2 separate regions of the Homo sapiens genome follow, and region 2 is linked to region 1. The links come from fine-mapping of genetic effects on plasma protein levels. A gene starts in region 1. The other region holds a variant in brackets. All regions are shown on one strand. Distances are between the middles of the regions.

Evidence for each region. PIP is the posterior inclusion probability: the model's chance that the variant is causal. The UK Biobank Pharma Proteomics Project read protein levels with antibody pairs (Olink). The fine-mapping took linkage between variants from a reference panel, not from the people measured, so its PIPs are less certain.
Region 2: its variant is fine-mapped to the plasma level of the STAT2 protein (UK Biobank, PIP above 0.99). The variant lies in the coding sequence of STAT2. If it changes the protein, the assay may bind it differently, which can mimic a change of level.

Annotation. Positions count from the first base shown.
Region 1 is chr12:56,356,843-56,372,096 of GRCh38, forward strand. It overlaps STAT2 (signal transducer and activator of transcription 2), which reads right to left and starts at 3,265. Exons shown (of 24, transcript NM_005419.4): 1 at 3,216-3,265. APOF (apolipoprotein F) reads right to left here and starts at 6,015. Exons shown (of 2, transcript NM_001638.4): 1 at 5,888-6,015; 2 at 3,726-5,347. The coding sequence starts at 5,903. The coding sequence ends at 4,383. RefSeq lists enhancers at 2,132-2,331, 2,163-2,332, 3,408-3,587, 3,658-3,747.
Region 2 is chr12:56,333,394-56,349,299 of GRCh38, forward strand. It overlaps IL23A (interleukin 23 subunit alpha), which reads left to right and starts at 5,491. Exons shown (of 4, transcript NM_016584.3): 1 at 5,491-5,813; 2 at 6,033-6,131; 3 at 6,298-6,444; 4 at 6,550-7,017. The coding sequence starts at 5,652. The coding sequence ends at 6,711. It overlaps STAT2 (signal transducer and activator of transcription 2), which reads right to left. Exons shown (of 24, transcript NM_005419.4): 16 at 15,770-15,868; 17 at 15,531-15,666; 18 at 15,359-15,411; 19 at 15,136-15,230; 20 at 13,426-13,562; 21 at 13,049-13,231; 22 at 12,753-12,810; 23 at 10,432-10,742; 24 at 8,204-10,138. The coding sequence ends at 9,996. PAN2 (poly(A) specific ribonuclease subunit PAN2) reads right to left here and starts at 607. Exons shown (of 26, transcript NM_014871.6): 1 at 469-607. RefSeq lists enhancers at 443-612, 738-957, 4,804-6,003, 5,482-5,781, 6,269-6,438 and 2 more, cis regulatory regions at 512-543, 528 and silencers at 5,492-5,786, 14,001-14,050. The variant A/G (reference allele first, on the strand shown) is at 10,080.

The DNA.
Region 1 (15,254 bases):
TTTCAGATTTGTCCAGATTTTGGAATATCTGCATTACTTACCAGTCGAGCATCCCTAATCCAAAACTCTGAAATCTGAAATGGTCCAAAATCTAACTTTTTGAGCACCCACATGACACTCAAAGGAAATGCTCACTGGAGCATTTTGGAGCCAAATTTTTCAGATTAGGAATGCCTAATCTGTATTTTTTTTTTTTTTTTTTTTTTTTTTTTAAGATGGACTCTCACTCTTTTGCCTGGGCCGGAGTGAAGTGGCATGATCTTGGCTCATTGCAACCACCATCCCCCTGGTTCAAGTGATTCTTCTGCCTCAGCCTCCTGAGTAGCTGGGATTACAGGCACCCACCACCACGCCCAGCTAATTTTTGTATATTTTTTAGTAGAGATGGGGTTTTGCCATGTTGGCCAGGCTGGTCTCAAACTCCTGACCTCAGGTGATCCACCTACTTCGGACTCCCAAAGTACTAGGATTACAGGCATGAGCCACTGTGGTCCCAACCTGTATTTTTTTTTTCTTCAGATGGAGTCTCGATCTGTTGCCCAGGCTGGAGTGCAGTGGTGTGATTTTGGCTCACTGCAAGCTCCGCCTCCCGGGCTCATGCCATTCTCCTGCCTCAGCCTCCCGAGTAGCTGGGACTATAGGCTCCCGCCACCATGCCCGGCTGATTTTTTTTTTTGTATTTTTAGTAGAGATGGGGTTTCACCGTGTTAGCCAGGATGGTCTCGATCTCCTGAACTCGTGATCTGCCTACCTCGGCCTTCCAAAGTGCTGGGATTACAGGCGTGAGCCGCTGTGCCCAGCCGGCCCCAACCTGTATTTTAATAGCTTCAATAAGTGGGCCTTTGTGCTTTAATGGGAATTTTCTTTCTTTTTTTTTTTTTTTTTTTGAGACAGGGTCTCACTTGGTCACCCAGGCTGGAGTGCAGTGGCATGATCTTGGCTCACTGCAGCTTTGACCTCTCAGGTTCAAGCCATTCTCTGCCTCAGCCCCTCAAGGAGCTGGGACTACAGGAGTGTGCCATCATGCCAGCTAATTTTTTGTAGAGATGGGATTTTGCCATGTTGCCCAGGCAGATCTCAAACTCCTGAGCTCAAGTAATCCGCCTGCCTCAGCCTTCCAAAATGCCGGGATTAACAGGCATGAGCCACCATAACCAGCCTAATGGTAATTTTCAAATACACACTAGAGTAGAGTGAATAGTACAAGGATCACCATCCAGCTTTAACAAACATTACTATTTCCACAATCTTATTTCATCTATCTCCCTAATTCATTTATTTTGCATTTATGTGTGTGTTTGTTATTTATATTTGATTGTGCTAAAGCATTTAAAGATCAGTGTTGATGTTAAGTATTTATTACAGCATGATCCCTGCTGGCTCTGAAGCTTTTTTTTTTCTTTTTTTTTTTTTCTTTTTTTGAGATGGAGTCTTGCTCTGTCACCCAGGCTGGAGTGCAGTGACACGATCTCGGCTCACTGCAAACTCTGCCTCCCGAGTTGAAGGGATTCTCCTGCCTCAGCCTCCCGACTAGCTGGGATTACAGGCGCCCACTACCATGCCCAGCTAATTTTTGTATTTTTAGTAGAGATGGGGTTTCACCATATTGTCCAGGCTGGTCTGGAACTTCTGACCTCAGGTGATCTGCCCACCTTGGCCTCCCAAAGTGCTGGGATTACAGGGGTGAACCACCATGCCCGGCCACCTGAAGCTTTTTTAGGAGCCAAATCTTTTTGGTGGTCAGGTAAGTACACCATATAAACTGCCCTCCATATAGGAAGGAGGAGCTCCATTCTAGAAGACATCTAAATGCTGTGCAATGGGTGGCTCAATCCCAAGAATATGACACGTTTATGACCTGTGAATCTTGAATATGATTATAGGTTATCAACTTTGTGAGATCCTGAAACTTCACTTAAAATTGTTGCCTGTAATCCCAGCTACTCAAGAGGCTGAGGCAGGAGAATGGCTTGTACCCAGGAGGCAGGGGTTGCAGTAAGCAGAGATCACATCACTACACTCCAGCCTGGGTGACAAAGCAAGACTCTGTCTCAAAAGAACAACAAATTGGTTTTTGCCTGTCACCAAGCAGGCTGTCCCATGCATCTTTCTCCCCACTGTTCCCTGCTCACTGCCAGCTGGTGTCTATTTAGGAAACTGAAACTTATGCTTGTTGCAGCCTGAGCCTAACAGAACAGAATTCATGCATATTTGTGGTCTAAAAAGGTCACATGATTTTATTACAAAATAAAGAGAAATGCTTGGGGTGGGAGAGTCTTCTACTAACATGAATAACATCAGCTGCCTTTCTACCTCCAGCAGGAACAAGGGAAGGGAGGGATTGGGCAGGGGCTATTTTCATTTTAACTCTTTTAGTAGTGCTTGATTTTTAAAACTATGTATCTGTATTGCTTTTATGATACCAAAAAAAAGTTAAAAAAATGATCAGGTGGCCAGGCATGATGGCTCATGCCTGTAATCCCAGCACTTTGTGAGGCCCACAAGACGAGAGGATGGCTTGAGCCCAGGAGTTTGAGACCAAGCTTGAGCAACATAGTGAGATTCCATCTCCAAAAAAAAATTAATGATGAGGTCCCAATTCTTGAGGATTTAAGTGTCTGATATTAAAGGAGCAAGTCAGCAAAGATTCAAATATGAAAACAAAACAAAAAACCTGGTCTCCCCAAATGGATTGCAAACACTGAGGTTAAGGGCTGAAACAATTTTTTCTCATTATCTCTCATTCTTAGGCACATATTTTGCACTCAAGAAGCTTTTCTGAAATGAACTGAATTTTGTGTGTGACCTTAGGCAATCGTTTCATCTTTCAGTAGCTTATACTTTTTAACAAAACAAGGATAATAGATTTATCTATCTTTGTTTTTAGATTTATCTATCTTTGAACATCGTTTTTTGGTGAAGATAAAAAATAATGCAGAGCAGAGGGAAAAACGTCAGATACCGAACCAACATAACAATGCCAGATTCCGGGTCTCGGAAGCTGCAGGGCAGTTTTGGGAGAGGGGCATTAGGGTTAGGGAGATAGGCTGGACAGAAGAAGATCGAGGACCGAGCAGGCGACAGCTCCTATTTCAATCTGGGGACCGAAGCTACCCTCTCCAGGGGGTAACCCCTGGGGCCAGTCGCCCTTCCCTCGGAGGAACTCTCACTCTCACCCCCACCCCTACCCCAGCACACCCTCTCAGGGCCCGTACCTGATTAGGGTTGCAGTCCCCGCGCCCTCCAATGGCTCTGGTCGCGACTTCCCGTCCCTAGTATGAGCTCGGGTACTAGAACCTCGCGCCCCGCCTACAACTTCGGCTAACCCCCCTCGGACCCGCCCCCTTGTAGTTGGCAGCGGAAGTCCGGAGCGGCCCCCATTCCCAGCCGCCACCCCGACACTGGCTGCCATTCAGTCAAGCCCTTCCCAGACTGCGAGCTCACTGGCGCCGCCGCAACTCCGCCCCTCCGCAGGGCGGGACAAGCTGAGCCGAAACCACACCTGCAGCTTCAGCGATTGGTGGAGAAGTTCAAGTAGGCACTTTCTACGAGGGGAGGAGTCCAATTAGTGGACTAGCCCAAGACTGAAACAGCTGATTTTCGAGAACCCGCGCGTGAGCCCCGGAACCGAAACTAGCTTGAGGAGCCTGGAGACGCCAAGGGCTCCATGGGAAGGGGTGGGACCGGAATTTCGACGCCTTGGGATAGGAAGAGGAGGGCTGAGGTAATGAAAACAATTTTTTTTTATTTTTATTTTTTGAGACATGGTCTCGCTCTGTCACCCAGGCTGGAATGCAGCGGCGCGATCTCGGCTCGCTGCAGCCTCGACCTCCCAGGCTCAGGTGATTCTCCCGCCTCAGCCTCCCAGGTAGTTGGGACTACAAGCGTGCATAACTCCGCCAGGATAATTTTTTGTATTTATTGTAGAGACGGGGTTTCGCCATGTTGCCCAGGCTGATCTTGAACTCCTGACCTCAGGTGATCATCCCGCCTCAGCCTCTCACAGTGCTGGGATTACAGGCGTGAGCCACCGCACCTGGCTAATAGCTATTTATTGAAAGTACTGTGATAAGCATTTTAGATTCATTGTATCATTTTAAATTTACAGGGCAACTCATTGAGGTTAAAATCATTCTATCTCCTTTAGAAACTTCAAAACTGATCTTAGTTCAAGAAAGAAGTTACTATTCAGTGATCACCGAGGCTCTAACAAGTGGAGCCTAGATTCGAAACCAAACCCTGTGACTTCAACACCCAAACATTTACGTTCTTACGTTTTACTGTACAGCCTTCCTCCTGGATAAATCAGATTAAAATTTTGAAGACATGTATATAGCTTGTCAGGGTAGTACAGTTATTAATTCTGTGGTTACCACATTCTTTTATATCTCAAGACTCCCAGCCCCAGGATCTAAGTCATAGCTCTTGATTATGGCCCACCCCCAGTAGGGAGCTGAACTTACTACTTCTGATATGAAAGAAGCCAGAGTAGTTGTTTCTTCCAAGTCACTCACATCTGAGATGGCCCTCAAACCCTCCTTGGTGGTCTCCGGCTGAGAGATGTTTGCGTCTTTCTGATCTTGGTAATACTGGATCAACTGCTGAACCCCAGACCTTAATGCAGGTTTAAGTGCAGCACTGATCGCTAGACCCATAGGCCCCCCTGACATCCCAGCCATGGTCATCAGAAGGTCATATCCCAGATCTATGGCCCCATCTCGGCCTCGTTCCCTGGCCTTGCCCAGGCAGTTTTGAGTAGCATAATACAAAGCTGTGCCCAGGTTGTAGAAGGTTCCCACTCCTGGCAGCAGCTGGACTACATTGTGCACAGCTTGCTCCTTCTCATTCTCACAGTCCTCTGTCGGGAGGGAGCGCCCGACCCTTCCTGTGCTTTGCTGCTCCCTGGCTAACAGCTGCAGAGCAGAGGCCAGGGCTTCCACTGACACGTTCCTCTCTGTGCTTCTGCCTTTCTGGAGCCCTCGAAGATGCTGGATGAGGACCTGTGTAGCATTCACACCACCCTGGCGGTAGAGCTGTAGCTGTAGAGCCCAAACATCAGCCTGACAACCAGCTTCCTCCAGGGCATTCCTTAGAGCCAGGCTTACCAAGAACTTGGGTAGAGGGGCCATGTGGCTGAAACCAGGCAGTGACTTTGGGTGCAGAAATTGGCAGGACAAGGGGTCTGAGGAGGGTGTCTGGGATTCCAAGGACAAGGGAAAGTGCATCAAGACATTTGTCTGCTTTCCATATGAAGTGGCATCCACAGGGTGCAGCAGGAGGTAGCAAAGTAGCAGCTCAACTGGTATCATGATGAGTCTGAGGCCACGCATGTCTGGAGCAGAGTACCCTAGAAAGGGGAGAAATCCGAAACATACAAACCATTTCCCTAAGGGCGATGGTGAGCCCAAGACTCAGTTAGGGGGACACCTCATACATCACCTGCTTCCAAGCTTTTGTACTTTCTTTTTAGAGACAGGGTCTTGCTCTGTTGCCCAGACTAGAGTGCAGTGATGGGATCACAAATCACTGCTGCCTTGAATTCCTGGGCTCGAGGGATCCTCCTGCCTCAGCCTCCCAAGCAGCTGGGACTACAGGTGCGTGACACCATGCCCAGCTAATTTTTAAATTTTTTGTAGAGACGTGGTTTTGCCATCTGGCCCAGCCTAGTTCTGAACTTTGGGCTCAAGTGATCCTTCCACCTCCGCCTCCCAAAGTGATAGGCTTCCAGATGTGAGCCACCGCGCCTGGCCCCAAGCTTCTGTTCTTTTTAGGTAAAGGCCTAGGAAATAGGAAATGCACCCCAGTTGCTCCCACTTGGTCTCCCCCATTTACAGGTCACCAGGGACTTCTGTTTTATTTCCACCCATATATAGGGACCCCAAATTACCACACAGTCCAGTCATTGAGAAGTGAGACTGCCTTGGTAGGTTTGATCGCTTCCTGATCCTGTTCTGCCTAGTTCTGTGTCCCATGAGGAAAGGAGATATTTGCTTTCCCCTATGATCAGTGAAGGATGTAATCTCTGCAAATATTTGCCCATTTATACTGGCTGCTCAAACCTTGTGCCCCTTGTCACACACTCAACCTCTATGCCTACAGTCCTGTTCTTTGGCATTTCCTGTATGTCCCTGCCACATTCCCACTCTAAGCTCATGATAGGAGCCAGGGAAATTCAGAATTAGGAAAGATGAGATGTTTGTGATACTCTCATTTCTCTTCATTTTAAAAATTAAATTAGCGGCTGAGCATGGTGGCTCACGCCTGTAATCCCAGCACTTTGGGAGGCCAAGGCGGGCGGATCACAAGGTCAGGAGTTCGAGACCAGCCTGGCCAATATGGTGAAACCCTGTCTCTACTAAAAAAAAAAAAATATATATATATATATATATATATATACACCCAGGCGTGGTGGTGGGCGTCTGTAGTCCCAGCTACTCAGGAGGCTGAGGCAGGAGAATTGCTTGAACCCGGGAGGTGGAGGTTGCAGTAAGCCAAGATCGCACTACTGCACTCCAGCCTGGGTGACAGAGTGAGACTCCGTCTTAAAAAAAAAAAAGGAGGGGAGCTGACACCTACTAAGTGGAGAGGGGCAAGGCTAACACTGGTCACATATGTGTTTAAGGGAAGAGGTGAAATAAAGAGCATTCATCTGTCCTAAGTGGTCTCCAACATTTCTAACTACTTACTGTGTGCCATCCTTGAATACAGTCCTGGGAAAGGAGACTCATTACTTATGTGATATTGAATAGCTGAAATGAGCCGGGATCAATTCCTGGATCATTTTCCTCACAAAGCACTTCAGAATAGCTGTGGAACATTTGATAGATTATATTGTCACTGTCCATGGACAATTTAAATGATCTTGAGAGCTTCTTCAACTTTTTGCCTAATTCTTCAATATGCTCCCAAGACTCATACCTGCAGTTCTTGGTGATGTGGACACCCAAAACTTTGAACTGTGACACCAAGCATCATGGGAGATGGTTTCTCAGCAAACTCAATCACCATCTGAGCTACCTGGTAGGCCAGCTACCCCAGTGGGTATATTTGCCACCATCCATACATTTCCCAGGATGGGCAGCTGGGTGCTGGGTTTATTCACACTTCCCTAAGGGACTACTAGATTCGTCACAATGATGTTGGTATTGCCTTCCTCCCCATTGAACTTTTTGACTCTCACGGATGAGGGTTTCAGTGGTATCCTTTCCTCGCATCTGAAACTGCAGAACATGGGCCTCAGTTGGGCAGCCCACCTCCTCCAAGGGCACCCTCAGAGCTAAGTTGGACAGGTACTCAGGCAGAGGGGCTAGGGAGGGGGCTGTGTGTAAGAGATCTTGGCAGATCCTGGGATCTGGGAGAGGAATCTGGCTCTCCATGTTCTCCAAATAATGGAGAGCATGTTTGATGGATGCCCAGTCTCTGTTAAAGATGGCTGGAGGGTCAGAGTCTCATTCTGAGCATTTCTTGGAAAGGCAGACACCAGGGACAGCAGGACACAGCAAAGCAGCAGCACAGCTTGGACCATGGGGGGACAGCAGAGCAGCCCTGCTGGAAGGAAGCAGTGCTCAGGTTGGGAAGTGGAGAAAGGCTCAGGACAAAGAGACACCAAGACTGGCCAGAGCTAGAAAGTGTCTTAGCTCTTGGAAACTTCGGTTGCCCTGAGCACACCTCATCTTCACTCTTAAAGGATGTGGGTGATCCTCCTATTTTGAGGAGAAACAAGTCAGAGGAAAAAAACAGTCCAAACATCTCATTTGCTTTGGTATCTTCATGACCTGAATTACTATTATTGTTGTTGTTGCTGTTTTTAATCTGCCCTTTCCCAGAATCACAAGGAAACCAGAAAGTTGATGGCTTCCAAAACAGTGAAGGACAAAACATTTGCAAATATTTATGCATCTCTTCCCAGCCCAGACTTTGTCCTTCTCACCTTTGACCCATACTGACAAACTGACCTTTCCCCTTTTAGGCCCTGCAGTCCTGTCCCATATCTTTTTTTTTTTTTCTTTTTCTTTTTCTTTTCCTTTTTTTTTCTGGAGACACAGTCTCACTCTGTTGCCCAGGGTAGAGTGCAGTGGCACGATCACAGCTCACTGCAACCTCCACATCCCGGGTTCAAGCGATTCTTGTGTCTCAGTCTCCCTAGTAGTTGGGATTACAGGCACGCACCACCATGCCTGGCAAATTTTTGTTTTGTTTTGTTTTCTGGAGACAGTCTCACTCTGTTGCTCAGGCTGGAATGCAATGGCGTGATCTTGGCTCACTGCAACCTCCACTTCCCAGGTTCAAGAGATTCTCTTGCCTCAGCCTCCCGAGTAGCTGGGACTACAGGTGTGCGCCACCACGCCTAGCTAATGTTTTTGTATTTTTAGTAGAGATGGAGTTTCACCATGTCAGTCAGGCTGGTCTCAAACTCCTGACCTCGAATGATCTGCCTGCCTCGGCCTCCCAAAGTGTTGGGATTACAGGCGTGAGCCACGGCACCCAGTGACATATCTTTTCTATCCTAAGGTTTTACCCTAAACCTATATTTGAGCTGAGGAAAAGGTCCTCCGTATCTTCTTGAGGGGAGAAAGGGTAAGGCAGAATAGCTGGTGATCTCTGGGACCCCTAAACCATTTTTCTTTTCTTTTTTTTTCTGAGACGGAGTTTCGCTCTTGTTGACCAGGCTGGAGTGCAATGGCGCGATCTCAGCTCACTGCAACCTCCGCCTCCCAGGTTCAAGTGATTCTCCTGCCTCAGCCTCCCAAGTAGCTGGGATTACAGGCGTGTGCCACCATTCCCGGCTAATTTTGTATTTTTGGTAGAGACGGGGTTTCTTCATGTTGGCCAGGCTGATCTTGAACCCCTGACCTAAGGTGATCTGCCCACCTTGGCCTCCCAAAGTGCTGGGATTACAGGCTTGAGCCAGCCACAGCGCCTGGTCACCATTTTTCTTATTAAAAGAATATATTGGTTGGGAAGCCAAGGCAGGCAGATGGCTTGAGCCCAGAAGTTTGAGACCAGCCTAGGCAACATGGCGAAAGCCCCGTCTCTACAAAAATTATAAAAATTAGCCAGGAGTGGTGGCATGCACCTGTAGTCCCAGCTACTGGGGAGGCTGAGGTGGGAGGATCACCTGAACCTGGGGAGGTCAAGGCTGCAGTGAGCCATGATTACACCACTGCACCATCCAGACTGGGTGACAGAGCGAGACTTTGTCTGAAAAAGAGAATATACTGGATGGGAGTCCAGGGAAACTGGACAGATTGACAAATAAGACAAAATCAGAGCAACTTTTTTTTTCTTTTTTAGAGTCCAGTCCAGGTATTGCTCTATCTCCCTGGCTGGAGTACAGTGGCCTGATCATGGCTCACCACAGCGTTTAACTCCTGGGTTCAAAAGATCCTCCTGCCTCAGCTTCTCAAGTAGCTGTGACTACTGGTGTGCACCACCATGCCTAGCTAAAATTTTTTTTTTTTTTTTTTGTAGAGATGAGGTTTCACTATGTTTCCCAGACTGGTCTTGAACTCTTGGTCTCAAGCAGTCCTCCCACCTCAGCCTCCCAAAGTGCTGTGATTAGAGGCATGAACCACTGCACCTGGTTTATTTTTCACTTTTCTAATTCCAATGCAAAACACAAATAAAACATGTCCATCAGCTGAGCAGTAACTTTCCAAATCTAACCAAAACTCCAGGAATTAGGCTTTATCTTGGGTTTAGGGGTAACATTAGTCCAAAAATTAGGGAAATAAGACATCTGATGCCTCCTAAAAATGGTACCAGTTCCTACATATCATTATGGCCTAAAGTTTCCTCTGATGTCACTCACCTCAGGCACATGGCCAAAGGGACTAGGCCAATGGCAGGGTCCAGGGTCCCTCCCTCTATTTTTTTCGGTTCTTTCAGTTCCCAGGAGTGGCCCCTGACAACTAAGAGCAAAGACAGAAGCAGAGGAGTAAGTCTCCAGGGACACAGTGCCAACTTAGAAACAGCAAGAACTAAGTGGAAAGGAGTCCAACACTGTCTGAAATTACTAGACCCCAAACCCCTGGGGAATCCCTAAGACAATATATATACATATACCTACATGGATAAAATATACGTACACACACATACACGTATACCAGGCTGGAGTGCAGTTGGTACAATCACAGCTCACTGCAGCCTTGAACTCCCAAGCTCCAGCAATCCTCCCACCTCGGACTCCTATATATCTGGGACTTCAGGCACGTACCACCACACCTGGCTAATTTTTAAAATTTTCTTGTAGAGAAGGGAACTCACTATGTTGGCCAGGCTGGTCTCGAGCTCCTGGGCTCAAGGGATCCTCCTGTCTAGGCCTCCCAGAGTGCTGAGCCACTGCACCCAGCCTCCTAGGACTCTATAGTTTCTGTGTAGCAACACTAGAAGGAGTGAAAGATTTAATCCTTGTCTCCTAAGATCTATCACAAAGCAGAAATATCCATTCTTACCAGTTTTTCCTCATTGTACTGGAAGTTCTAACCAGTGTAATGTGGAAAGAATAAAAAATAAATGGCATAAAACTAGAAAGGAAGATGTAGAACGATATTTATTTAAATACAACATAGCTCTGGCTGGCTCAGTCGGTAGAACATGAGACTCTTAAAAACAACATGGGGGCTGGGCGCAGTGACTCACGCGTGTAATCCTAGCATTTTGGGAGGCTGAGACGGGCAGATCACGAGGTCAGGAGTTCAAGACTAGCCATGGCCAGCATGGTGAAATCCCGTCTGTACTAAAAGTACAAAAAATTAGCCAGGCATGGTGGTGCGCACCTGTAATCCCAGCTACTCGGGAGGCTGAGGCAGGAGAATCACTTGAACCCGGGAGGCAGAGATTGCAGTGAGCCGAGATCTCGCCACTGCACTCCAGCCTGGCAACAGAGTGAGAGTCTATCTAAAAAAAAAAAAAAAAAAAAAAACCAGCAACAACAAAAAAACAAAAAAAAGACATGGGGCGGGGCTTGAGACCAGGAGTTCGAGACCAGCCTGGCCAACATGGTGAAACCCCATCTTTACAAAAAATAAAAAACACAGCCAGGGGTGGTGGTGTGCATCTGTAGCCCCAGCTACTCGGGAGGCCGAGGCAGGAGAATTGCTTGAACCCAAGAGGGGGAGGTTACAGTGAGCTATGATTCTGCCACTGCACTCTAACCTTGGTGACAGAGTGAGACCATGTCTCAAAAAGTAATAATAATAAAATTTAAAAAAGTAATACAAAATAAAAACAACATGGACTAGGCATGGTGGCTCACACACTTTGGGAGGCCAAAGTCCAGGAGTTCAAGACCAGCCTGGGCAGCATAGGGGAGACCCTGTTTCTGCAAAAAAAAAAAAAAAAAAAAAAAAAATTAGCCAGCTCAGCTGTCCAGCTGTGGTGGCACACGCCTGTAGTCTCAGTTTCTCAGGAGGATCACTTGTGCCCAGGAGGTTGAGGCTTCAGTAAGCTGTGATCGTACCACTGAACTCCAGTCTGGGTGACAGAGGGAGACCCTGTCTCAAATAAATAAATAAATAAATAGATAGATAGATAGATAAATAAAATAATAATTAAAAAATAAAAAATTAAAAGAAACAATGTGATTGTTTATGCATAAATCCTAAAGAATACAATTTTAAAAGGACCAATAAGTTAATTTAGCAAGGTGACAAGATAAAATATTAATATATAAATGAATTCTATTTCTGTAGTCTAAAAACATACATTGAATGTTAACTTAGGGCCGGGTGCGGTGGCTCACACCTGTAATCCTAGCACTTTGGGAGGCCAAGGTGGGTGGATCACGAGGTCAGGAGATCAAGACCATCCTGGCTAACACAGTGAAACCCTGTCTCTACTAAAAATACAAAAAATTGGCCAGGCGCGGTGGCTCACACCTGTAATCCCAGCACTTTGAGATGCTGAGTCGGGTGGATCACAAGGTCAAGAGTTCAAGACCACCCTGGCCAACATGGTGAAACCCCATCTCTACTAAAAATACAAAAATTAGCTGGGCGTGGTGGTGTGTGCCTGTAATCCCAGCTACTCAGGAGGCTAAGGCAGGAGAATCGCTTGAACCTGGGCTGCAGAGGTTGCAATGAGCCGAGATCGCGCCACTGCACTCCAGCCTGAGTGATAGAGTGAGACTCCATCTCAAAGAAAAGAAAGAAAAAAATTTAGCTGAGTGTGGTGGTGGGCGCCTGTAATCCCAGCTACTCGGGAGGCTGAGGCAGGAGAATCGCTTGAACCCGGGAGGCGGAGGTTGCAGTAAGCCAAGATCGCGCCACTGCACTTCAGCCTAGGCAACAGAGCAAGACTCTGTCTCAAAAAAAAAAAAAAGAAAATTAACTTAGAAAATTCCAGCTGGTTACCATGGCTCAAGCTTGTAACACCTGGACTTTGGGAGGCTGAGGTGGGACGATTGCTTGAGGGTAGCAATTTGAGACCAGCTTTGGCAACATAGTGAGACCCTGTTTCTACAGAAAAATAAAATGAAAAAAAAAATTCCAATTACAATAGTGTTTAAAATAAACAAGTAAAATTCCTAAAAGAAGAAACAAGACAAGGATGCTCACTCTTGCTACTTCTATTCAACATTGTACTGGAGGTTCCAGCCAGAGTAATTAAGCAAGACAATGAAATAAAATGTACCCGATTAGAAAGGATGAAGTAAAACAACCTATATTAGTGGGTAGCATGATGTTGCATATTAAAAAAACTCAAACTTACACACACATAGACACACACACACAAAATAAGTACTAATAAATGGGTTCAGCTAAGTTGCAGGATACACTATCAATACACGAAAATCGATGATATCTCTATATATGTGCAATGAATAATTTGAAAATGAAGTTAAGAAAATTGCATTTATAATAGCAGCTATAAGTGTAAAACTTGTACATTGAAAACTACATGGGTGGGGGGAGGGGGAGGGATAGCATTAGGAGATATAGCTAATGTTAAATGATGAGTTAATGGGTGCAGCACACCAAGATGACATATGTATACATATGTAAAAAACCTGCACGTTGTGCACATGTACCCTAAAACTTAAAGTATTAAAAAAAAAAAGTCAAAGAAAAAAAAGAGCTCTCATCATTTAGAGATTCATACTGAAATACTTATGGATGAAAATATATTATTTGCTTGAAAATGGTGGAGGTGAGAAAATGTGGAGTATATGACTATGAATTGATAATTCTTGGAATTAGGTGATGAGAAATAGGTGTTTAATAGACTATTTTCTCTACTTTTTTATATATTTGAAATTTTCCATAATAAAAAGGTTTTTTTTTAAAAGAAAAGAAAACTACAAAACATTACTAAAAGAGATTAAAGGAGACTAAAGAAGATTAAAGAATGAGTTAAACCCAAAACTATTATAAGGAAGGAAATAATAGAGATTAGAGAAGAGATAAATAAAACAGAGAATACCTTTAGGCACAAATACTTGTGAAAAAATTAAAAATAGGCCCGGCAAGGTGGCTCATGCCTGTAATCCCAGCACTTTGGGAGGCTAAGGTGGGTGGATCACGAGGTCAGGAGATCGAGACCATTCTGTTAACACTGTGAAACCTCATCTCTACTAAAAATACAAAAAATTAGCTGGGCTTGGTGGCACACGCCTATAGTCCCAGCTACTCGGGAGGCTGAGGCAGGAAATTGCTTGAACCCAGGAGGTGGAGGTTGCAGTGAGCCGAGATCGTACCACTGCACTCACTCCAGCCTGGGCGACAGAGCAAGACTCCGTCTCAAAAAAAAAAAAAAAAAAAAAAAAAATTGTCTGGGCGCAGTGGCTCACACCTATAATCCCAGCACTTTGGGAGGCCAAGGCAGGTGGATCATCTGAGGTCAGGAGTTCAAGACCAACCTGGCCAACATGGTGAAATCCCGTCTCTACTAAAAATATAAAAATTAGCTGTGGTGGTGCATACCTGTAATCCCAGCTACTTGGGAGGCTAAGGCAAGAGAATTGCTTGAACCTGGGAGGTGGAGGTTGCGGTGAGCCAAGATCATGCCACTGCACTCCAGCCTGGGCAACAGAGCTAGACTCTGTCTCTAAATAAATAAATAAATAAAACAAAAAAACAAAAATTAGCCAGGCATGGTGGCAGATGCCTGTAACCCCCGTTACTTGAGAGGCTGAGGCAGGAGAATCACTGGAACAGGGGAGGCAGAGGCTTCACACCACTGCACTCCAGCCTGAGTGACAGAGGGAGACTCTGTCTCAAAATAATAATAAATAAATAAATAAATAATAATACAGATAAGAGAAAAACAATTGAGAAAATCAGTGCAACCAAAAGTTGGTTCTTCAAATAGATGAACAAAATTGACAAACCTTTAGCTACACTAACAACAAAAAAAGATAAAAAGACTCAAATTATTAAAGTTAAAATGAAAGTGGGAACATTACATTTTACAAAAATTAAAAGAATTATAAGAGTAATTAAACAATTACATGCCAACAAATTGGATAATCTAGATGAAATGAACAAATTCCTAGAAACATATATCTTACCAAGACTAAATCATGAAGTAATAGAAAATTTGAATTAAAGATATTGCATCAATAATCAAAAATCTCCCCAAAATGAAAAGCCCTGGACCAGATGGCTTCACTGGTGAATTCTGCCAAACATTTGAAGGAGAATTAATGCTAATGCTTCTCAAACTTTGCCAAAAGATCAAAGAGAAGGAACATTTCCTAACTCATTCCAGGGGTGAGCATTACCCTGATACCAAAGGCAGACATACACTAGGAAAAAAGAAAACATACACCAATATCTCCTATGAATACTGATGCAAAAATCCTCAACAAAATGCCAGCAAGCCAAATTTAGCAATGTATTAAAAGGATTATACACTGTGGGATTTATTCCTGGAATATAAAGGTGGCACAGTGTACGAAAAACAATCAATATAATTCACCACATTAACAGAATGAAGGAGAAAAATCATACAATCATCTTAATTGATGCAGAAAAAGCATTTGACAAAATTCAACACCCTTTCATGATGAAAACATTTAACAAACCAGGAATAAAAGGAAACTACCTCAATATAATAAAAGGCATGTATGAGAAAGTCATAACAAACATTATATCATACTCAATGGTGAAAGATTAAAGGCTATTCTGCTAATATCAGGAACAAGAAAAGGATGCCCACTTTTGCTAGTTCCATTCAACATAGCCCTAAAAGTTCTAGCCAGAGCAATTAGGCAAGAAAAGGAAATTAAAGGCATCCAGGTTGAAAAGGAAGAA
Region 2 (15,906 bases), 23 kb before region 1:
CCTCCTCCGCTAGGCCCTCTGTACTCTCCACCACCCCATTATCTAACCTAATCCTTGACTTCCCTTTCTTCTCACTTCGGACTGCTCACTTGCCTTGTTCAGCCCTGAATCATCAGGTGAAGGGAGCGAGAATTGCGGGGGTTGGAGTTAGGTAGAGGGATTTAAGGTGCTTTCTCCCAGAATTGGGGGTGAAAACGGGTGGATTGGACGGTGGGGAGAACGAGAAGTCAGTTTCCTAGAATCCTCTCCAATAGCTACCCAGGATTCTCTAGAGGAAAACAATAATGGCCAGTTACCCACAATTGGGGCGGGGGCAGGGGAAGGTGACGGAAACGGCTAGTTACCCAGAATTCTCTGGGGGAACCAGAAAAATCGGTTATCTAGAATTCTCCCACGGCAGCGGTGAGGAGGGGGATAGGGCAAGGGTCAGATGTGTTCCTGGGATGCTTACGGGGAATGGGTCATTACCAAGATTTCTCCATGGCGGATATTTTGGAGCGCGTGGAATTAGAACGAGTAGGGGGAGCGCAAGCGCTGTCAGCTCCGCGGGAAATTCCAGTTTCCCCAGTTCTCCCCCACGCCTAGGGCTCAACCTAACCACTACGGCGCCAAGGACCGGGGTCCGAGGCGCTTCTTCCAATCAAGAAGGGCTCGGGGCATATTTTAGCCAATCAGAAGGGCTCCGGGCGCATCTAAGCCAATCAGAAGGAGCCAGGTACGGCGACCCCAGGAGAGAGCGTGTGACGCACGCGCCGGAAAAAGAGGTTACGGGGCGCCGGTGGGACAAACGCAGCCAGACGCCGGACTTGTTGGGTGGCGTTAGAAAGTAACTCTGTTTTTAGTCTTCTTGAACAAAATTACGTCTAGGTTTGAAAACCAAACTTTTATGCTTTCTATAACTTTAGGAACTCTAAAATAAGGGACACACAAGGCAAAGCACTAGGAGTCGCTGTTGGGTATTCCCAGCGGGGCTTAGTCTACCTCCTCTTCCTGCGGTGCCCTAGTGAGCCACTCCGCCACCTCTGACCCTGTTGCCCCCAAAACTCGCTGGCATTTCCTATTATTTCCAGATATGGGAGAGAAAAAAAAGGAAGCGGGAGCCGGACTCCTGACACAGTCCAAGTGGCTGCATCTTCTACAGGCATCCATCTGAAACTCCCATCCGTGATTGTTCCCTCCCCAGAGACCCCGGTAACATTCCCGGGTAACAAGATGCCCCTGGTTATCAAATTCCCCTAGCTCTTGAGGCTGGCTGGACGTTATCCCTCAGAGGGGGATGAGCATGGCAAATTGGGACTTGTTATTCTGAAGGATTCGTGGGTCCTGTGAACTCTAATTACTTTGAAATGGGTCTAGGTTGTGAGATGTCTCAGAGCACTTTAGCTCAGCTGTTATTACTGTTTCTAAAGGCCACATAAAGGGACTCTGATGGGAGACATTCCTCATGGAGGATTCAATTCTATAACATTTCTCTCAATAAAGGCTGGTAAATAGACCTTCATTAAAGGAACCAAGAATTTAAATTTCTAGGACTCAGAGGGGTGGGGTCCTATACCCAGTCAGAGATCCTACCTAGAGCCTAGACCAAGAGAAAAACACAGATGGTCTCTCAAACTGATTTGATCTGACTTCGCAGGTCATTAGATATAGAATCTCCGAAAAAGGTGGATGCTGAGAGACATAGACAGTTCCTACACTTTAAGAAATCTCCATCTTGAGGTCTCAAATTGAGAAAGACTTAACAGACCCATGAGAGTTACAGATCCCTAATAACCTGGGCTAAATAATCCATGTCTGCCGGGCGCAGTGGCTCACGCCTGTAATCCCAGCACTTTGGGAGGCCGAGGTGGGCGGATCACCTGAGGTCGGGAGTTCGAGACCAACCTGACCAATATGGAGAAACCCCGTCTCCACTAAAAATACAAAATTAGCCGGGCCTGGTGACGGGAGCCTGTAATCCCAGCTACTTGGGAGGCTGAGGCAGGAGAATCATTTGAACCTGGGAGGCGGAGGTTGCAGTGAGCCGAGATGGCACCATTGCACTCCAGCCTGGTCAGTAAGAGCGAAACTCCGTCTCAAAAAAAAGAAAAAAAAAAAGAAAAGAAAAAAGGATACTGTGAGGAGACACAAGAGCATCCATGACATAGATTATTTAGCTCAGCTGTAATTACTGTTTCTAATACAGTAATATTAGATGGTGATCTGCCTGCCTCGGCCTCCCAAAGTTCTGGGATTACAGGTGTGAGCCACCGCGCCCAGCCTTTTTTTTTTTTTTTTTTTGAGACAGGATCTCACTCTGTTGCCCATGCTTAAGCGCATTGGCCCTCTCACTCACTGTAGCCTCAACCTCCTGGGCTCAAGCGATCCTCCCACTTCAGCCTCCCAACTAGCTGTAACTACAGGCACTGGCCACCAAACCCAGATAATTTTTTTTTTCCTGTAGAGGTGGGGTTTTGCCACGTTACCCAGGCTGGTCTTGAACTCTTAAGCTCAAGCGATCCTCCTGCCTCGGCCCCCCAAAGTTCTGGGATTACAGGCATGAGCCACCATACCTGGCGTACAGTATCCAGTGTAATGCAGTGATTAAAAATTCAGGATCCAGACCGGGATGGTGGCTTGTGCCTGTAGTCCCAGGGGTGGAGGTTGCAGTGAACGGAAATGGTGCCACTGCATTCCAGCCTGGGTGACAGAGTGAGACCCTGTCTCAACAAAACCCCCCAAAAACCAAGAACAAAAAAGAATGCAGGATCTGATGCTAGATTGTCTGCATTAGAACTCTAGCCACTTAAGCTGGGTGTGGTGGCTCATGCCTGTAATCCCAGCACTTTTGGAGGCCGCAGGCGGGTGGATCACCTGAGATTGGGAGTTCAAGACCAGCCTGACCAACATGGAGAAACCCTGTTTCTACTAAAAATACAAAATTAGCCACCGGGCATGGTGGTGCATGCCTGTAATCCCAGCTACTTGGGAGGCTGAGGCAGGAGAATCACTTGAACCCGGGAGGCAGAGGTTACGGTGAGATGAGATGGCACCATTGCACTCCAGCCTGGGCAACAAGAGCGAAACTCCATCTCAAAAAAAAAAAAAAAAAAAAAGGAATTCTAGCCACTTAGAAGCTCTGTGATCTTGGGCAAATTGCTTATCTTTGCACCTCAGCCTCCTCCTCTGTAATATAGGGTAATAGTATCTACCTTAAAGGGTTGTTGTGAAAATTAAATAGTTTAGTACATGTAAAGTGCTTAGACAAAGTATTTGGCATTAAGCGAGAGTTGGATATATTAGCCATCATTATTAACCACCTGGGGGAACTTCAACTGATTTGGAGTCTAGGCATACAACTGGAAAGACCTGCCTAGGAGTGTCTTGTGAATGCGATTTGCATAACGGTTTAGGCCCAGCTGACGTCAAGGGCTCCTTATAGCTCCAGGTCAGTTGTAGCCCTGGATGTAGTTCCTGCCACGCAACAGTCCCACAATCTCCCCACCAACCCTTCTTCCTACCCAACTCCTGCAGCACCAGGAAGTGAAACAAAGAGGCAGAGCCCTGTGCCTCCAACTCACCCTTGTCCCTCTCATCCCATCCCCCAGGCTCTACTTCCTCCTCCTTTTCATCTTTCTTTCATCTCTTATCTTTTAGGGCTCCCAGAATGGGGACCAGAGATGGGAAGAACATAGGAGACGTTGTACACAAGTAAGGTGAACTCCCTATCCTGCCCCCTCCCCTTTCCTTATTCCATTGGTGTCCACCTTATTAGGGAGAGAGGCAAAACAGTTCTCACCCAAACTCAGATAATTCTCTGATGCTGGAAATGTTTAATCTAAAGGGTAGATTTCCATTTTTTTTTTTTTTTTTTTGAGACAGAGTCTTGCTCTGTCACCCAGGCTGGAGTGCAGTGGCGCCATCTCGGCTCACTGCAACCTCTGCCTCCTGGCTTCAAGCGATTCTCTTGCCTCAGCCTCCCGAGTAGCTGGGACTATAGGCGCCCACCACCGTGCTGGCTCATTTTTGTATTTTTAGTAGAGACAGGATTTCACCATGATGGCCAGGCTGGTCTCGAACTCCTGACCTCATGATCCGCCTGCCTCGGCCTCCCAAAGTACTGGGATTACAGGCGTGAGCCACTGTACCCGGCCCTTGGTAGATTTAACTTAGAATCGTAATATTTTTTTTTCTTCTCTTAGCTCATACCTACAGAATCATAATATTTGAACCAGAAGTGTCATTGGGCAGTTTTGAATAGCTCTAAGGGAAGGGAGACCTCCATTCAGGACAAGTTTCTCAGAAGAAAAGGGTCAACCTCTTGGGGGAGGCTTTGGGAGCCAGCTGTGTGGTCACCGATGGCCTCATTCTGACGTCTTCGAAATTGTTCTGGGACCCTCCACTGGGGTCGGGGCAGTCCCGGCTTTGGACCACCTTCCACTCCCACGCCCAACCTCACACTCTTAGCTGTTTCACTCGATGTTGCATCATGGAGGGTGATGAAATCGGTGTCAGTGGATTTTACCCATGGATGCAACAAGCTGAAGGACCAGCCAGAGTCATTGACAGTGCACCTTCGACTACCCAGAACTCCTGGGCTTCCTAGCCATGGGGTCCAAAGCTGGGACTGCCCCGACCCCAGTGGAGGGTCCCAGAACAATTTGGATGACGTCAGAATGAGGCCATGGGACTAGGTGCTGGAATGTCTAAGTTGAACTTCCAGGCCTTATTTGCACTAGTCCTGAAAAAAACATCATCCAACTCTTATAGAGCCTATGAAATCTTGGGCCACTAGGGTTGAGGAGTCAGGTGGTTCTTAGTCAATAACCCTCTTCCCACAAGAGCCTTTCTAACCTCCACTGTGAGGCCTGAAATGGGGAGCAATAAGACCTCATACTGGCTTCCCAGTTCTCCAAGTTCCTTCATGCGCATTCTCTCCCATGAAACCAGGACCATCCAGTTGAAATAATGTTGTTTCCAACTGAGAAAAAGAAGCCCGTTTATTCCTAATAGGGGGCATCAGGTAGGAATCAAACTTCATTGCAAACAGCTCACCATCCTATTGGGAGATGAATGGATGTTTCTCTGTTTTGCTTTTTCCTCAAGCAGGAGGAAGTGAGGAAATTAGGTTTGGGGTGGGGTAGGGGTATAGCTTTGAGAGGCAAAAAGATCAGGGAAAGATCAAACAGGAAGGAACTTGAGACCAGATTAATTTAAATATTTGTTCTCCCTTACCCCTCCCACCCCATCCCCGCTGTGCCCCCCATCCCCGCCCCTTCTATAGCTATTTCGATTCCTGGAGAGCATTACACATGTGTCCCATCCCAGGCCTCTAGCCACAGCAACCACACTACTCATTTCCCCTGGAACTGAGGCTGCATACCTGGGCTCCCCACAGAGGGGGATGATGCAGGGAGGGGAATCCCACCTGCTGTGAGTCACCTGCTGGTATAAAGGGCGGGCCTTACAATGCAGGGACCTTAAAAGACTCAGAGACAAAGGGAGAAAAACAACAGGAAGCAGCTTACAAACTCGGTGAACAACTGAGGGAACCAAACCAGAGACGCGCTGAACAGAGAGAATCAGGCTCAAAGCAAGTGGAAGTGGGCAGAGATTCCACCAGGACTGGTGCAAGGCGCAGAGCCAGCCAGATTTGAGAAGAAGGCAAAAAGATGCTGGGGAGCAGAGCTGTAATGCTGCTGTTGCTGCTGCCCTGGACAGCTCAGGGCAGAGCTGTGCCTGGGGGCAGCAGCCCTGCCTGGACTCAGTGCCAGCAGCTTTCACAGAAGCTCTGCACACTGGCCTGGAGTGCACATCCACTAGTGGGACACATGGTGAGTGGCAGCCCCTGGAGCCTAACAGGAGTCCAGGCTCTCCAAGGCTGTGGCAGAAGACCGTGACCTTGAGTGGAAGCTGGAGGGTTGAAGGCCATTAGGGAGTAAGAGAGGACAAGAGAGTAGGGTTCCTGGGAGAGTCATGGGCCTGAGGGTCCAGGTTGGCTTCAGAAGTACTATCTTACTTCTTCATTCTTTCCACCTCTTCCTTCATTCCAGGATCTAAGAGAAGAGGGAGATGAAGAGACTACAAATGATGTTCCCCATATCCAGTGTGGAGATGGCTGTGACCCCCAAGGACTCAGGGACAACAGTCAGGTACCACTGGGATGTGGCTGGGCAATGAAGGAGAGGGGACTGAGAACATGGCTGGGTACCATGGTAAACCAGAAGTTGTGTCTGAAAATAGTAAGAAACTGGGTGAGTCTTCAGTGAATGGAGTAGGAAGAGGGTGTCCTCTTTCATTGCTTTCTTTTCTCCCTAGTTCTGCTTGCAAAGGATCCACCAGGGTCTGATTTTTTATGAGAAGCTGCTAGGATCGGATATTTTCACAGGGGAGCCTTCTCTGCTCCCTGATAGCCCTGTGGGCCAGCTTCATGCCTCCCTACTGGGCCTCAGCCAACTCCTGCAGGTATGAAGTAGGGGCGTGGAGGATGGGGGCTTGCAGGTGTCAGAGACAGAGGGTTGGGGGTTAAGGGTTTAGAGTCTTCTCTGACTGTGTCCTATGTCCTTTCAGCCTGAGGGTCACCACTGGGAGACTCAGCAGATTCCAAGCCTCAGTCCCAGCCAGCCATGGCAGCGTCTCCTTCTCCGCTTCAAAATCCTTCGCAGCCTCCAGGCCTTTGTGGCTGTAGCCGCCCGGGTCTTTGCCCATGGAGCAGCAACCCTGAGTCCCTAAAGGCAGCAGCTCAAGGATGGCACTCAGATCTCCATGGCCCAGCAAGGCCAAGATAAATCTACCACCCCAGGCACCTGTGAGCCAACAGGTTAATTAGTCCATTAATTTTAGTGGGACCTGCATATGTTGAAAATTACCAATACTGACTGACATGTGATGCTGACCTATGATAAGGTTGAGTATTTATTAGATGGGAAGGGAAATTTGGGGATTATTTATCCTCCTGGGGACAGTTTGGGGAGGATTATTTATTGTATTTATATTGAATTATGTACTTTTTTCAATAAAGTCTTATTTTTGTGGCTATATGAGTCTAATTTCTAGGCTCAATTGGGAAAGAGAAATCGATGGAAAAATAAGGCCAAGAGACTACAATATGCATCCCTTTCTTCTATTCTGAAGGGCTATGGTGGAGAATGATATTTTCTCATGACCCCCTGGTGTATAGAATAACTGGGATCTCTTTAGTATTAATTCCTATATGGCTGAGCAAGCAGAATGGGATTACCAGATTAGGAAGTGGGATCATACCTAAGGGTCACTTGCTCCCTGATCCAGTGTCTCCTTCCCTGCTTTCTTGGCCAAGAGTATATCTGATCAAAGACGGGAGTCCTGATCATTGCAGGATCAAAAGTCAGAGTTCAGCTTTGAGCAGGAAGGGCATTCCAGGGAAATGAAGATAAATATCCTAGAATAATGGGACTTTCCTCTCAAAGGACAATTGGAATCCCTTTTTTTTTTTTTTTTTTTTTTTTTTTTTGAGATGGAGTCTCATTCTGTTGCCCAGGCTGGAGTGCAGTGGCGTGATCTCTGCTCACTGCAACCTCCGCCTCCCACGTTGAAGCGATTCTCCTGCCTCAGCCTCCCAAGCAGCTGGGACTACAGGCACGCACCACCACGCCTGGCTAATTTTTGTATTTTTAGTAGAGATGGGGTTTCACCATGTTGGTCAGGCTGGTCTTGAACTCCTGACCTCAGGTGATCCACCTGCCTCGGCCTCCCAAAGTGCTGGGATTACAGGCATGAGCCACCATGCCCGGCCTTGGAGTCCCTTTGGAAGTTTGGTAACTCAAGGGTAGCTGAAATTCTTTGAAAAAAAGAAAAGATGAGGGGAAGTGGCTAGTGATTATTTCCTTTCCTTTTTTTTCCATAGTCACAGCATCAAAAAGTGTGGGTTTGAAGTCAGAAAAATCCAGACAGGTTTGTGTTTTGGCTTTGCCAACAATCAGCTGAGTGACAATGAGACAGTTATATAACTACTCATCCCTCCCCCCACAATGCATATATAGCTCCCAGCACCCCTAGAAGAGTCTAACGGACAGGAGGGGCTACTCCAAACAGGAAGGGAAGAAGAAATATGACAAGAGGAATGTAGAGGGGTGGATGGAAGAGAGGCCACAATTTTCTGACTTCATTCCTGTGCAGCTTGTTGGTGTCCCTAAGAACATTAGCCTTTGTGAGCAGGGAAATAAAGAGGATCAGAGATGAGACATTTCCAGATCAGCACAAAGTTTATTAGCCATTTCTGCTCAGAAGAGCCCCTTTCTGAACAGGACTGTTCCTCTGACATAACAGACAAGAAACAGCCACCTGTGCAGGGCCTTTCCTTTATATCTCAAGCTACATCAGGAGAACATCTTGGAGCAATGTCAGTTGCCCCCTGGGGTTCCCTGGGAATAGCTAAGGTGTGAGATTGTCCAGAGTCCTATGACAGACCTTCAAGGTTTTAAGTTCCACAGACTTGGACTTTGTCCAGGTCCACAACCAACGAATAGAAACCTTCCTTTCAGGTAAACAACATATTGTACAAAAAAGGGAGGATGATAACATAATAGAGAAAGAGCTAAGACCCATTGCTTCTCCTCTGTAAAAACACCAAACTTTATCCAATACTATAAAAAAGAAATTCCTGCTGGGAACAGTGGCTCACGCCTGTAATCCCAGCACTCTGGGAGGCCGAGGTGGACAGATCACTTGAGGTCAGGAGTTCGAGACCAGCCTGACCAACATGGAGAAACCCCGTCTCTACTAAAAATACAAAATTAGCTGGGCATGGTGGTGCAGATCTGTAATCCCAGCTACTGGGGAGGCTGAGGCAGGAGAGTCACTTGAACCCGGAAGGCGGAGGTTGCAGTGAGCCGAGATCACACCATTGCACTCCAGCCTGGACAACAAGAGAGAAACTCCATCTCAAAAAAAAAAAAAAAAAAATCCTGGCCAAGCACAGTGGCTCATGCCTATAATCCCAGCACTTTGGGAGGCCAAGGCGTGAGGATCACTTGAGCCCAGTTCAAGACCAGCCTGGGCAATATAGCAAGACCCTGTCTTTAAAAAAAAAAAATAGGGCATGGTGGCGCATGCCATGGTGCTAGCTACCCAGGAGGCTGAGGTAGGAGGATTGCTTGAACCCAGGAGGTTGAGGCTGCAGTGAGCTGTGATTGCACCATTGCACTCTAGCCTGGGCAACAGAGTGAGACCCTGTTTAAAAAAAAAAAAATCCCCAGCAATCCTACCATCCCCAGCCTCCAGGAGTGATCTGTCTCCTAAGCATTGAGAAAGTGGAGACTAGGTAGCATAAACTAGTGTGCAAAGCTTCACACTCACATTAGATTGGCAGGATCATTTTATGGGGGAGGAACAGGTACAGCCAGCTTAGGGGCAGAGTAGGGGAGGAGACTGGTAAGAAAAAGAGGTCTACTTCCTATCCATCCCTTTCTTCAGGGTAGAGTTTCACATGGTAGGCTAAGGCAGAAAGCTCTCAACCCCTGCAGGAAAAGAAGAAATTCAGGGCTTGAGCCAGGAGTAAAGGAAAGAAGAAAGCAAGTTATCCTAGACATGAAGGAATGGAAGAAAGAAATGGAGTCCTATCCTGTGTCTGTGCTCCCCACCAAGGGCCAATGCCAGTATGCACCAGTTTAGCCTAACCAACTATTAAAATGTTGAAATCCTTCCATACTGGAAAGAAGCCACTGCCCTGAGCCCTCCAAGTACCTGTCAACTGCCCTGGCCTGCCCCCAGGACCCCTATACCTCCCAGCACAGCAGGCAGCCTCCAGGATCCTATTTAGACCTATGGCTCAGCATCTGTTCTGATTCATTGTTGTCCCCTCTGTACCCATGTTATGCTTTCACCTCTCACCCCAATGGAGTCACACAGGCCTGAGTTTGAACAGTTAACACAGCTTGGAAGGGACACATGCCTGATTCCCATCCTTGGAGAACAATATCATGCTATGAGGAGTAGGAAGGGCAAGAGATATGAAAAGAACAGAGGAAATGTGGTTCCTAGAAGTCAGAAGGCATCAAGGGTCCATCAGTGTAGAAGTGGCTGGGGCGGGAGACGTAAACCTCATCCACGGTGTTCTGGCC[A/G]GCCAACAGTGGGTCACCATTCGGCATGATTTCTTCAATCTTTACACAGTTTCTGAAGACTAGGTAATCCAGAGAGAAAAGTGAGGCCCCGATCTTAGTTAGGAGTTCCCAACCCAGCAGGGAAAGGGAGGGAGGATGGCAGGAAAGGCCTGGGAAGAGCCTGAGTGGGAACTTGTGGGATGAAAGAGCAGGGAGGTGGGGGAAGGCATGTGTAATTCCTAAAAAAAGGAATCACAGAATGGACCTCTCTCCAATGAGGAGCTTGGAGTTCAGCTTTTTCTGTAATGGGAGAGGGAGAAGAGGTAGGAAAGGGAATGTGTGCCATCTTCCATAGCTCCATCTCATCACTTACTTTCCATTGGCTCAGTGTTCAAATGTCTCAGATCACAGGGCAAATCTGGCTCTGGCACTGGCTGTGATACAGGTCCTTGGTCTGGCTCTGGCACTGTTTGTGATACCATGCATAGTGTGGGCTCTATCACAGGCTCCAGAGTGGACTCCAGCACAGACTCTAGCTCTGGCCCCAGATCCAGCCCTGCCTTCAGCAGTGGCTCTAAGTCCAGGCTGAGCTCTGGCTCTGGCACCAGCCCTAGTTCCAGCTCTAATGACTCCAGCTCTGGCTCTGGCTTAAGCTCCAGCGGTTGTTGCAGTTCATCCACCTGTCTGGATACCCAAAGACAGACAAAGGGGCAGGGCTCAGTGGTTCAAATGAAATCAGGAATGGTAGAATAAGCAGAAGCTAGTCTAAGAAGGCAGTAGGGCGGAGGGCTAAAGAGCATGGGTTTGGAATCAGGCCTCCTGGAGTTTGAATCCTGGCTGGGGGACCTTAGGCAAGTGGCCTAACTTTTCTGAGCCTCAGATTTATCATCTATAAATGAGAACAATACCTAGTAATTCTTGAGAGGCAGTAGGGTGGTTAAAATCAGGGCTACGGAATCTAACAGACCTGTATCATTAGCCACGTACCTTAGGTACAAAACTTGACTACTCTAAATCCAGTTCCTTAGCTGAAAACAGTAACAGTGTTTACTTCACAGGACTATTTTGTAGATTCAATAAAATGAGAAAATAAATGCAAACCATTTAGCCTAGTGCCTGGCGCATAATAAACTCTCAGGCCAGGCATGGTGGCTCACACCTGTAATCCAAGCACTTTGGGAGGCTGAGGCGGGCAGATCACTTGAGGCCAGGAGCTCATGACCAGCCTGGCCAACATGGTGAAACCCTGTTTCTACTAAAAATACAAAAGTTAGGCCGGGTGCAGAGGCTCACGCCTGTAATCCCAGCACTTTGGGAGGCCAAGGTGGGCGGATCATGAGGTCAGGAGTTTGAGACCAGCCTGGCCAATATGGTAAAACCCTGTCTCTACTAAAAATACAAAAATTAGCCAGGTGTGGTGGTTGTGCGCGCTTGTAGTCCCAGCTACTCAGGAGGCTGAGGCAGGAGAATTGCTTGAGCCTGGGAGGCAGAGGTTGCAGTGAGCTGAGATCGTGCCACTGCACTCCAGCCTGGGCAACAGGGCGAGACTCTGTCTCAAAAAAAAAACAAAAATTAACCAGGCATGGGTGGCGCTCGCCTGTAATCCCAGCTACTCAGTAGGCTGAGGCAGGAGAATTGCTTGAGCCTGGGAGGCAGAGGTTGCAGTGAGCTGAAATTGCACCACTGCACTCCAGCCCGGGCAATGAGAGTGAGACTGTCTCAAAAAAAAAAAAAAAAAAAAAAAAAATTCTATCCCCAGCCAAGTGCCATGGCTCATTCCTACAATCCCGGCAATTTGGGAGGCCAAGGCAGGAGACTGCTTGAGGCCAGGAGTTCAAGACCAGCCTGGGCAACACAGTGATACCCCATCCCTACAAAAAATTTAAAAAATTAGCTGAGTGTGATTGAGTGTGATGGCGTGTGCCTGTAGTCTCAGCTACTTGGGAGGCTGAGGCAGGAGCATTGCTTCAACCCCTAGGTCAAGGCTGCAGTGAGTCATGATTATACCACTGCACTCCAGCCTGGATAACAGAGACCCTGTCTCAAAAAAAAAAAAAAAAAAAAAAAAAAAAAATATATATATATGCGGGGTGTGGTGGCTCACGCCTGTAATCCCTGCATTTTGGGAGGCCAAGGTGGGTGGATTGCTTGAGTCCAGGAGTTCAAGAACAGCCTGGGCAACATGGTAAGACCCCATCTCTACAAAAAATACAAAAAAAATTAGCTGAGTTTGGTGATGCATGCCTGTATTGCTTGAGCTCAGGAGGTCGAGGCTGCAGTGAGCCAGGATCACACCACTGCACTCCAGCCTGGGCGACAGAACAAAACCCTGTCTGGAAAAAAAAAAAGCTCCATGCTTGCATCAAGTAGGTACCCATTAACACCAGTGATTATGATCATTATTATCCAGAAACCCCTGTGGAGACAACCTAAGGATGGCAGCAGAAAAATATGAGATAGGAGAGACTAGAACCAGAAAAAACTAGAGTGGGCTAGGAGGGAGGGAAGGCTGGGGAGACTGGAATAGGGCAGCTTAGGAGAAGGCAGAAAGGAGAGGCTGTGGGAATGGCAGGGCAGAGCAGCTGACCATCATCCTGGTGCTCCACCCAGGAGAAGGTAATGCCCCCTTTTGACGATTCACTGAAGCAGAGCCAAAAAGGATTAGGGAGGATGAATGAAGAGTTCATATCTCACCTATTAGAGACCACAATGAGCCTGTGTTTCAGGTATTTCCTCCGTTCCTGGAGATTAACTGTGAGGAACATATACAAGAAGCAGAGAAGATCAGTGGGCCAGACATATAGCCTGAGGTTCCCCTAGTGCAGATGGTCCTGGCAGTCTCATCCCCATAGTAACCAGCAGTATCCCATGGACGAATCCCTTAATTCCTCTAGATATCAGTTTTCCCATGCTTTAAAGGAAGGAGTGGGATCTATGGATGTCTGGTAGATCTCTGCAATCTAGCAATGAAGTATGTCAACGATTCCCACCTTTCTCCTGGTAGTAGCACCCAAAAGCTTCATCCCGGGGGATTCGGGGATAGAGGAAGCGCAGTGGGTTTTCAGGTATATTCTCCTCAGTGAGCAACTGGTAATGGCGGATGATTTCAGTCAGCGGGAGTGACTGCAGCACCTCCTTCGTGTACGGTTGCACAGAGTAGATGAGCACCTTGTCTGGAGAGTGAATGCAGGAACAGGCGGGCTTGAGGGAAGAGGCCGGGCCTTGGAGCTCTCTGCTCTGGCTGCCCAGTCCCAAACCAGCTGAGGGATTCAGTTCAGAGCCAGGGAAGCCAAGGGCAGGCAGAGGGGCAAGAGGGGAGCCAGGCAGAAAGGAGAGGCTGTGGGAATGGCAGGGCAGAGCAGCTGACCATCATCCTGGTGCTCCACCCAGGAGCAGGTAATGCCCCCTTCTGACGATTCACTGAAGCGCAGTAGAAAGGTGCCAGACATGGTCTTCTTCAGCAGCCGGCGCTCCTGGCTCCGACTCACAAAGCCCATGATGCGTCTGGAGCACAGAGAGCAGCTGTGAGACACCGCCCAACACCCTGCCCCACCAGGCCCCTGCCTCCCTGCTCCCCTTGTATGGAGAAACAGCCCAGGTTTGGAATCCAGGCTTTGGACCAAGCCCTGCCACTTAGCTTTTTTTTATCTTTTACAAGTCACTTCACTTTGCTGACAATAGCCACCTTCCGAGGGTTTGAAGTACGAAGATTCAGTGAGATCACACAGATGAACAGCACTTTTTTTTTTTTCTGGGAGACAGGGTGTCATTCTGTCACCCAGGCTGGAGAATAGTGGCATGATCACAGCTCACTGCCACCTCGACCTCCCGGGCTCAAGCAATCTTCCCACCTCTCAGCCTCCAGAGTAGCTGGGACCACAGGTGCACACCACCATGCCTGGCTAACTTTTGTATTTTTCGTAGAGACGGGGTTTCACCACGTGGCCCAGGGTAGTTTTGAACTCCTGGGCTCAAGTGATCTGTACTCCTCAGCCTCCCAAAATGCTAGGATTACAGGCATGAGCAACCACGCCTGGCCACAAATAGCACTTTTTTTTGGTTTTGTTTTGAGACAGAGTCTTGCTCTGTCACCCAGGCTGGAGTGCAATGGCACGATCTTGGCTCACTGTAACCTTCTCTCCTGGGTTCAAGCGATTCTCCTGCCTCAGCCTCCTGAGTAGCTGGGATTACAGGCGCCCACCACCACACCCGGCTAATTTTTGTATTTTTAATAGAGATGGGGTTTCGCCATGTTGGCCAGGCTGGTCTCAAACTCCTGACCTCAGGTGATCCACCCACCTCGGCCTCCCAAAATGCTGGGATTACAGGCGTGAGCCATCGTGCCTGGTCATGAATAGCACTTTTAAAAGCCAAATGCTACACAAGTTGGTAGGCAGTGTGGTGGAAAGAGCATGGGCTTGGAGTCACATAGGCCTGGATTTGAATATCAACTGTGTCCCTTGGGTAAGTTCTTTAACTTCTCTGAAACTCAGTTTCCTCACATGAAATGAAGCTGGCAAAACCCACCACTCAGCATGGTTGTAAGGATGAGATGAGAGAATTAATGAAGAGCACCCATCAAGCTCTGGAATGTAGGAGATGCTTCACAAACACTGTTTATGGCTATTATTGGTTGTTTTTTTTTTTTTTTTTTTGAGACGGAGTCTTGCTCGTCACCCAGGCTGGAGGGCAGTGACGCAATCTCGGCTCACTGCAAGCTCCATCTCCCAGGTTCACGCCATTTTCCTGCCTCAGCCTCCTGAGTAGCTGGGACTACAGGTGTCTGCCACCACGCCCGGCTAATTTTTTGTATTTTTAGTAGAGACGGGGTTTCACCGTGTTAGCCAGGATGGTCTCGATCTCCTGACCTCATGATCCGCCCGCCTCGGCCTCCCAAAGTGCTGGGATTACAGGTGTGAGCCACCACACCCGGCCTTATTATTGTTAACAAATGTGAGGAGACGTGGCCTGCACCTGTCTTTGCTCTCTCTCCCTGCTTGCCACGTGAGGGTGCAGAGACTCCACTCTCAAGCCCGGAAAGCACAAGCCCATGAGGGAAGGGTGACCAAGGCCTTACCCATCATTCCAGAGATCCTTCAGGTGGTCATGTACCAACTCCAGAATTTTGTCCAGCCATGTCCAGAATGGTAACTTGCCAGGAGGGCTCTCTCGCTGGAGGAGGAATGGAAAGGTAGCAAAAGCTGAGGAGTTGCCTCTGGTGTAGGGAAGGAGGGACGTGGGAAGGCCAGTATTTGGAATGTGGGCTAGATCCAGCAGCTCCACAGGATTCAGGGAGTTACCTTAGTGAAGTCAGCCCAGGACAATAATGGATCCTCAGTCCTACAGTTCTGCCCTGTGGGACAGATAGCCACAGACAGATGATGAGGGAAGCCAGGGGTCCTGGGATAGATAGGACAGAGGGACAGAAAAGACTAAGGCTGGGGAAAGGCTGAGAGAAAAGGAAATCTGTACCGAACAGCTTGTTTCTCAGCATGCTCAGCTGGTCTGAGTTGAGGCCTCGGCCAACATAGGAGGAGAACTGCCAACTGAGAGCAGGGCCCAGCAAGCTCCAGGGGGCCTTGGGGGGGTTGGAGAAGAACTGCTGGTTCTGCAGGGGTGGGAGCAGTGTAGGCTGGCTCAGAAGCAACCTATCACACCAAGCTTCCACACCCCTCCTCTCGCGCCTTGACCTGTCGGCCCCACTCCCCTACCTGAAGGTTTGGGCTGAGCAAATTGAACCAGAGAACTGAAGCCCAGGCAATTGAGAGCTGGTTCATGTTGGAAATAATCACCACAGGGAGGGTGTCCGTCTGGGGAGAAGACAGGAGTCACAGAGAGGGATGTGATG